Regions from separate parts of the Homo sapiens genome. Here region 2 is reported to be linked to region 1. Evidence: microRNA targets listed by miRTarBase, many of them from high-throughput screens and not tested one by one. Region 1 holds a microRNA gene; the other region holds the end of a gene's coding sequence.
The links. The annotated mature microRNA hsa-miR-2909 reads GUUAGGGCCAACAUCUCUUGG and lies in region 1 at 2,105-2,125, opposite strand. An mRNA with a match to its seed (bases 2 to 7 or 8) in the 3' UTR can be bound and repressed. Matches are read on the target gene's strand: a 7mer-m8 pairs with bases 2 to 8, a 7mer-A1 pairs with bases 2 to 7 and ends in A, and an 8mer does both.

Region 2: the mRNA of RHOG is a reported target of hsa-miR-2909. Seed matches in the 3' UTR shown: 7mer-m8 at 1,278-1,284.

The regions. Positions count from the first base shown.
Region 1 is chr17:37,032,464-37,035,872 of GRCh38, reverse strand. It overlaps MIR2909 (microRNA 2909), which reads right to left and starts at 2,128; the gene lies at 2,060-2,128. All of the region lies in intron 11 of AATF (apoptosis antagonizing transcription factor), which reads right to left.
Region 2 is chr11:3,824,963-3,828,371 of GRCh38, reverse strand. It overlaps RHOG (ras homolog family member G), which reads left to right. Exons shown (of 2, transcript NM_001665.4): 2 at 166-1,394. The coding sequence starts at 234. The coding sequence ends at 809. It overlaps PGAP2 (post-GPI attachment to proteins 2), which reads right to left. Exons shown (of 7, transcript NM_014489.4): 6 at 3,244-3,352; 7 at 2,001-3,044. The coding sequence ends at 2,914. Among named protein-coding and RNA genes, the nearest start is that of RHOG, 14 kb to the left of the region's middle.

The DNA.
Region 1 (3,409 bases):
TTTATTTTTCTACAAACAATACTGCAATAAAGATCCTTAACACAAATGTATTTGGCAACTATTAAAGACTATCTCCTACAAGTAGATTTTTCTGTGTTAACAGACACATTTAAAAGTCAGAAACAGGGCCAGGCATGGTGGCTCACGCCAGTAATCCTAGCACTTTGGGAGGCCGAGGCAGGTAAATCACCTGAGGTCAGACTGACCAATGGGAGGCTGAGGCAGGAGAATTGCTGAACCTAGGAGGTGGAGATTGCAGTGAGCCAAGATTGCACCACTGCACTCTTGCCTGGGCAACAGAGCAAGACTCCATCTCAAAAAAAAAAAAAAAGTTGGAAACACAATGTCAAATAATCCTCCCAAAAGATTTTGCCAATTACATTTCCAAAAACAGTATGCAAAGGTGCATTTTTCCTTACACCATCAACACTGGGTATTACTAATCCTTTTAATATTTTCCAACTGAATAAGGACAACAAAAAGGAGGGCGTGTGTGCATGGTGGTGCACGCCTGTAGTCCCAGCTACTCGGGAGGCTGAGGCAGGAGAATCGCTTGAACCCAGGAGGCGGAGGTTGCAGTGAGCCCAAATAGTGCCATGGCTCTCCAGCCTGGGTGACAGAGCAAAACTCTGTCTCAAAAAAAAATAATAAAAAGAAATCTCATTATATTAATTTGCATTTCTTTGATTAGGTTGAAAGTGCTTATGGTTTTTGGCCCTTGAAATTTTTCTTTTTTGATTTTTTTTTTTTAAATGGAGTCTCATTCTGTCGCCCAGGCTGGAGTGCAGTGGCACGATCTCGGCTCACTGCAAGCTCCGCCTCCTGGGTTCACGCCATTCTCCTGCCTCAGCCTCCCAGTAGCTGGGACTACAGGCGCCCACCACCACGCCCGGCTAATTTTTTGTATTTTTAGTAGAAAAGGGGTTTCACCGTGTTAGCCAGGATGGTCTTGATCTCCTGACCTCGTGATCCGCCCGCCTCAGCCTCCCAAAGTGCTGGGATTACAGGTGTGAGCCACTGTGCCCGACCTTCTTTTTTGATTTTTAAGTCTTCTTGTTGATATGCTGTGTCCATTATTGTTATTGGGATATTCTTAGACATTTGTAAAAACTCTTTACATAGTAGAAAAATATGTCATCTGCTGGAATTTTTTTGTTCAAGTTCATCATTTACCTATTAACTTTGTTTTTGATGTCTTTTTCAATGTGACTTTTATGTAGTCAGGTCTATTAATATTTTACCTTTTAGTTTCTGGCCCTGTGGTCATTCTTATAAAGTCCTTCACTACCTTGAAATCAGTTTAAAAAATTCTCTATGCCCCCGGCACACCAAGAATGACATATGTATAACTTAGGAAAACCAAAAGTATTTACTTGAGGAAAAGTAGCATGCAGTGATATTGATATTCTAACAATTATGAAAGCTTCCTATTTGTGGTGTACAAATGGGACACAAAATAGAATGGTACTAGGTTACTTCCACTTTTGTTTTTCCACTAAAAAAAAACAAAGGAGGATAAGCTATTACTACTTCCTTCTTACTTAAGATAAAGTTAACAATACCTACTGGCCCTAAAAATTTTGATACTAGGAGAGAGAGCTAGTTCCTATTTACTGTACCCATAGTTAATCTGGCCTATTCAAACCATAAAGCTTGAGCAGTTGATATGGACACGTCTCCCTATCCTTAGGAAACACAATGAGAATGGTGCGCACTTTGGTAAAAACAAATGTTCAGTTCTCCAGCTACAAGACTATTATTCCATTCCTTAAGTAGCTAAACCAGCTGGAGAACAATGCTGGTAATTAGGAATCAGTCCACAAGGGATAGCCCTTTCTCCTTATAAATGTCACAAGGACTGTCACCCAGCAAACACATTCCTAACCCCTTCTCCCTTGCTTGCTCTACCTGGAGTGGCAACATAACACAGTTCTGGCCAATGAAATACAAAAAGTTTGCTGAAGGGAATTCTGGGGAAGGTTTTACTTTTCTGATTAAAAACAAACAGGTATGGCTGGCACAGTTCTTTCCTCTTCTTCCTGCCTTGAATGCATGTTTGATGGCGTTAAGTTGCAACAGCCATCTTGGGACCACAGGGGAAAGACCAAGAGATGTTGGCCCTAACACCACCGAGAAGCAAAAGCCATGGACAACAATTGCCTACCACCCCTAGAATTATCCTGTCACAAAGATGAACTTCCATTTCCTTATGCCTCTGTAGTCAGGTTTTATATTTTTTATAGGCCATACCCAAATTAATCCTAATAGAGTCATTTTCAAATAATTTTTATGTCTAGCAAATAGTAGACCTTCAAAAATTAGGAGTTAATATTGGTAAGATTCTGGAAAAACTAAGTACACCTCAAGGGATTCAAGTAAAATTCCAACTAAGAATGGCATAAAGTTGATTTCTGAATGATTTCATAGTACTATGATCAAAAGATACCACTAATATCTAAACTAGATTTCATTTTATGCCTGGGATAATAACGTAACCTTAAAGGGTTTGGTTTAATTTTCAAAATCTAGTTTTGCTTTCTTCTTGATATAATTTTTTCACAGCATCCTGACAGGGAATCTAAGATGCACTCACTTTACTCTGCAATTTTTAAACAGACTGGATCCAGAAATGAACAAAAAACCATGGCCATATCTAGACATTCACTTGCAAAGCACAGGATAGCAGATGTGGTCACAAAGCCAGACACAAATGTACTCAGAACCATCCATAGGCTGTTTTGTGCTCAAAGTACTGAATAAACCAAATAAAAAATAATAATAGTATTTGTCAAAATTTGCAGATCTCATACTTTCAGACAAGGAGGGGAAAATCTGATGGCATTTGGTAGCAAACAAAATACTCTAAAATAAAAAGTTTATATGTAGTTTGAGGGATAAAACTGGCAAAAACCACCTGTGCCTATGTTATGACCAATAATTTCACTTGGTAAATATGTTTAAAAATGCTTCTCATAGCATTATTTACAATGATGACAATTAAAAGCCATTTAAATGTCCAACAATCAGTGAATGGCTAAATAAATATTATAACAATATTATTTCGTCATTGAAAAATTTTAATTATTTTAACGACATGAAAATGCTCTCAGTATATAAAACATTTCCTGAATATAATTTCAATATAAAAAAGAAAAACAGGAAAATACTGAAAGGGAACTTACAAAAACTGAAATGAAATGCTGTAAGATGTTAAAAGTGGCTGTCTTCTGTGTAGGTGTGAGTGTATATACATACACTTCCCGTCTCTGCTGACAGGTCTAGAAATAGCAATACTCACTAACAAGGAGCACCCCTAGTACCTAGATCTTGGTTTCTAAATACCACAATCCACTAAACAGAGCCAGGGCTCCTTCAAGAAAGACTGATTTCAGGGCTGGAAGATGGAAAG
Region 2 (3,409 bases), not on the chromosome of region 1:
CAGGGCCTTTCATTGTGTGTCTTTCTGATGACCGTCTTGATGGGACTTTGGGATAGTGTCAGGTTAAGGGAACAGGAGCCGGTTTCCCTTTGTGTGCCCCCATCTTTTCTTCCCAATAGGCAGAGGCCTCCCTAACCAAGAATGTCCCCTTTCATCTGTCCACAGGTCACTGCAGCCAGAGGGGTCCAGAAGAGAGAGGAGGCACTGCCTCCACTACAGCAACTGCACCCACGATGCAGAGCATCAAGTGCGTGGTGGTGGGTGATGGGGCTGTGGGCAAGACGTGCCTGCTCATCTGCTACACAACTAACGCTTTCCCCAAAGAGTACATCCCCACCGTGTTCGACAATTACAGCGCGCAGAGCGCAGTTGACGGGCGCACAGTGAACCTGAACCTGTGGGACACTGCGGGCCAGGAGGAGTATGACCGCCTCCGTACACTCTCCTACCCTCAGACCAACGTTTTCGTCATCTGTTTCTCCATTGCCAGTCCGCCGTCCTATGAGAACGTGCGGCACAAGTGGCATCCAGAGGTGTGCCACCACTGCCCTGATGTGCCCATCCTGCTGGTGGGCACCAAGAAGGACCTGAGAGCCCAGCCTGACACCCTACGGCGCCTCAAGGAGCAGGGCCAGGCGCCCATCACACCGCAGCAGGGCCAGGCACTGGCCAAGCAGATCCACGCTGTGCGCTACCTCGAATGCTCAGCCCTGCAACAGGATGGTGTCAAGGAAGTGTTCGCCGAGGCTGTCCGGGCTGTGCTCAACCCCACGCCGATCAAGCGTGGGCGGTCCTGCATCCTCTTGTGACCCTGGCACTTGGCTTGGAGGCTGCCCCTGCCCTCCCCCCACCAGTTGTGCCTTGGTGCCTTGTCCGCCTCAGCTGTGCCTTAAGGACTAATTCTGGCACCCCTTTCCAGGGGGTTCCCTGAATGCCTTTTTCTCTGAGTGCCTTTTTCTCCTTAAGGAGGCCTGCAGAGAAAGGGGCTTTGGGCTCTGCCCCCCTCTGCTTGGGAACACTGGGTATTCTCATGAGCTCATCCAAGCCAAGGTTGGACCCCTCCCCAAGAGGCCAACCCAGTGCCCCCTCCCATTTTCCGCTACTGACCAGTTCATCCAGCTTTCCACACAGTTGTTGCTGCCTATTGTGGTGCCGCCTCAGGTTAGGGGCTCTCAGCCATCTCTAACCTCTGCCCTCGCTGCTCTTGGAATTGCGCCCCCAAGATGCTCTCTCCCTTCTCCAATGAGGGAGCCACAGAATCCTGAGAAGGTGAATGTGCCCTAACCTGCTCCTCTGTGCCTAGGCCTTACGCATTTGCTGACTGACTCAGCCCCCATGCTTCTGGGGACCTTTCCTACCCCCATCAGCATCAATAAAACCTCCTGTCTCCAGTGGCCCCGGCTCCTCCCTGTGTGCTGGGCATTAGCGGGTGGGCATGGGCTAGGGCTCCCCAGAGACTGGGAGCCTTTTGTTTCTTCTAGTAGACAATAGGCTTCATTGTGGTCCCCTCACCCCTCAATTTCCCTAACAAAGCTCTAGGCTCCCTTGGAGGGGGCAGTCTTGCTCTGGGGCCCAGTCACAGATGCTGTAGTGGACTCAGACACAAAACCTGAGGAAAGACTTCTTGATCTTAGGGCTCAGAAAGGGAGAGGTTCAGAGCCATTAGTCTAAAGGCAGATGCTCCCACAGTCATGCATGTGACAGCTGTACCTCACATCCCCAAGAGGACAGCTTTAACAACAAGAGTTGGAATTTGAACCCAGGTCTCTGTCTCAACTGAAGACTTCCAGGTACCCTAGCTTGCAGTCCTAGAATCATTACAGATAGCTCACTCACTCCTGCTCACCAAAATAAAGGCTTAGACCAGCTTTAGGAGACTCCAGACCTAAGGGGGACTGGGGGGTTCTGCTAGGAATCATACCCTGCCGTGGACTTACTCCCTCCCCATTCTTGAGCCTGTTTCTCTCCCAGTTCCTATCAAACAAGATGAGCCCCAAGACTAGCAAGCCTAGGCAACTGTTGGCCCAAAAAAAAAATTTATTTTCCTTTCAAATAAAATGTACAACCAAAATTTAGGGTTTGGAGCAGTAGGGAAGACAGGAGATACCAGGGAGCCCATTTTACAGTAGAGATCTGCATCTGACCCCTCTATCCCATACCTTTGCAAAGGAGGGGAGGGGTCTACAAGCCAGAACTTTCAGAAGAGAAGAAAATACATGCTGTGCTGGTGCTGTTTCTGGAGCAGGTCATCCTTTAGGTATAGAACACCACCTCCACCCGATGACATCAGAACCACTGACTGGTAGAGTCCTTGGAAATCATACAGTCCACCCATCCCCCGCCAGACACATGGACACACCGAGGCTCAGATGGGGAAGGGTACATACCCTAGGGCACACACCAAATCAAAAAGGTGAAGTCAGGACTAGAACACCTGAGCAACTTTAGCAGGGGACTGTGGCCACAGGCCTGGATGTGCACAGTAGATCATGAAATACATTAGTCCTATGAATGACCCCCGTGCAGAGAAATGGCTGTGGTTGTCAGGGAGCAGCCACTGCTCAGGGGCTCCTGACCTCAGTGAAAGGTGACTGTGTAAAGGCCAGAAACTGGATGGTGGTCATGAACCTCAGGACGTTTTTTTTTTTAGCACCAAATGGTGGAGCTCTCTGCCAGCTCAGCTTCTTGGGGCCTCTCAGGTAAAGGTGATGTTTGAGGACCCCACGCCCATATGAGGGGTGGAGAGGAGAAGCCAGCAGCACTGGGGTGAGCCTTGGCCTACACCCTTCCTTCTTACCCTTCCCCCATCTTCAGTAAGGCCAAGAGAGGATGTGGGGTGGGGAAGGCCAGAATGGTATCGTGTTTCTTGTTTCTGGGCAGTGGGCTGCGTCCTCCCAAGCAGGACTGAAGGGTTCAGAATCGCTTTTCCTCAGGCTGAGAGGTTATGAGCAGCTCCTTGTTCCCGAAGTCCCACCAGGCCGTCATGTGGAACGCCATGTTGGTTAAGACAACAGTGTACTCCAGGATGGCAAAGATGGTGTACACTGTTGTGAGGACACAAGGAACAGGACATGGTGAACTTCCAGCTACCCGCTCAGAGGCCTCTTGATAAATCACACCACCATTGGTCTGCCACAGAGAACACAATGGCAGCCAGTCCCCAAGACCATTGCCCATTATCAAAAACATCATTGCTGCCCCGCAGCCACTCATGACCGCCTGTGGATCCTATCCTGGCCTCACCTCCAGCCTCACAATACATGTTGTGCCGAAAGTAGACAGCCAGCGCCGAGAAGAAGGAGATGAAGTTGATGATGAAGAGCCGCTGTTTCCAGCTGTAGGACTTGCGATCCTAGGGAATGGGCTGTCTGATCACTCTGCAGCTTGCTGGGTATGAGAGCGTGGGCTC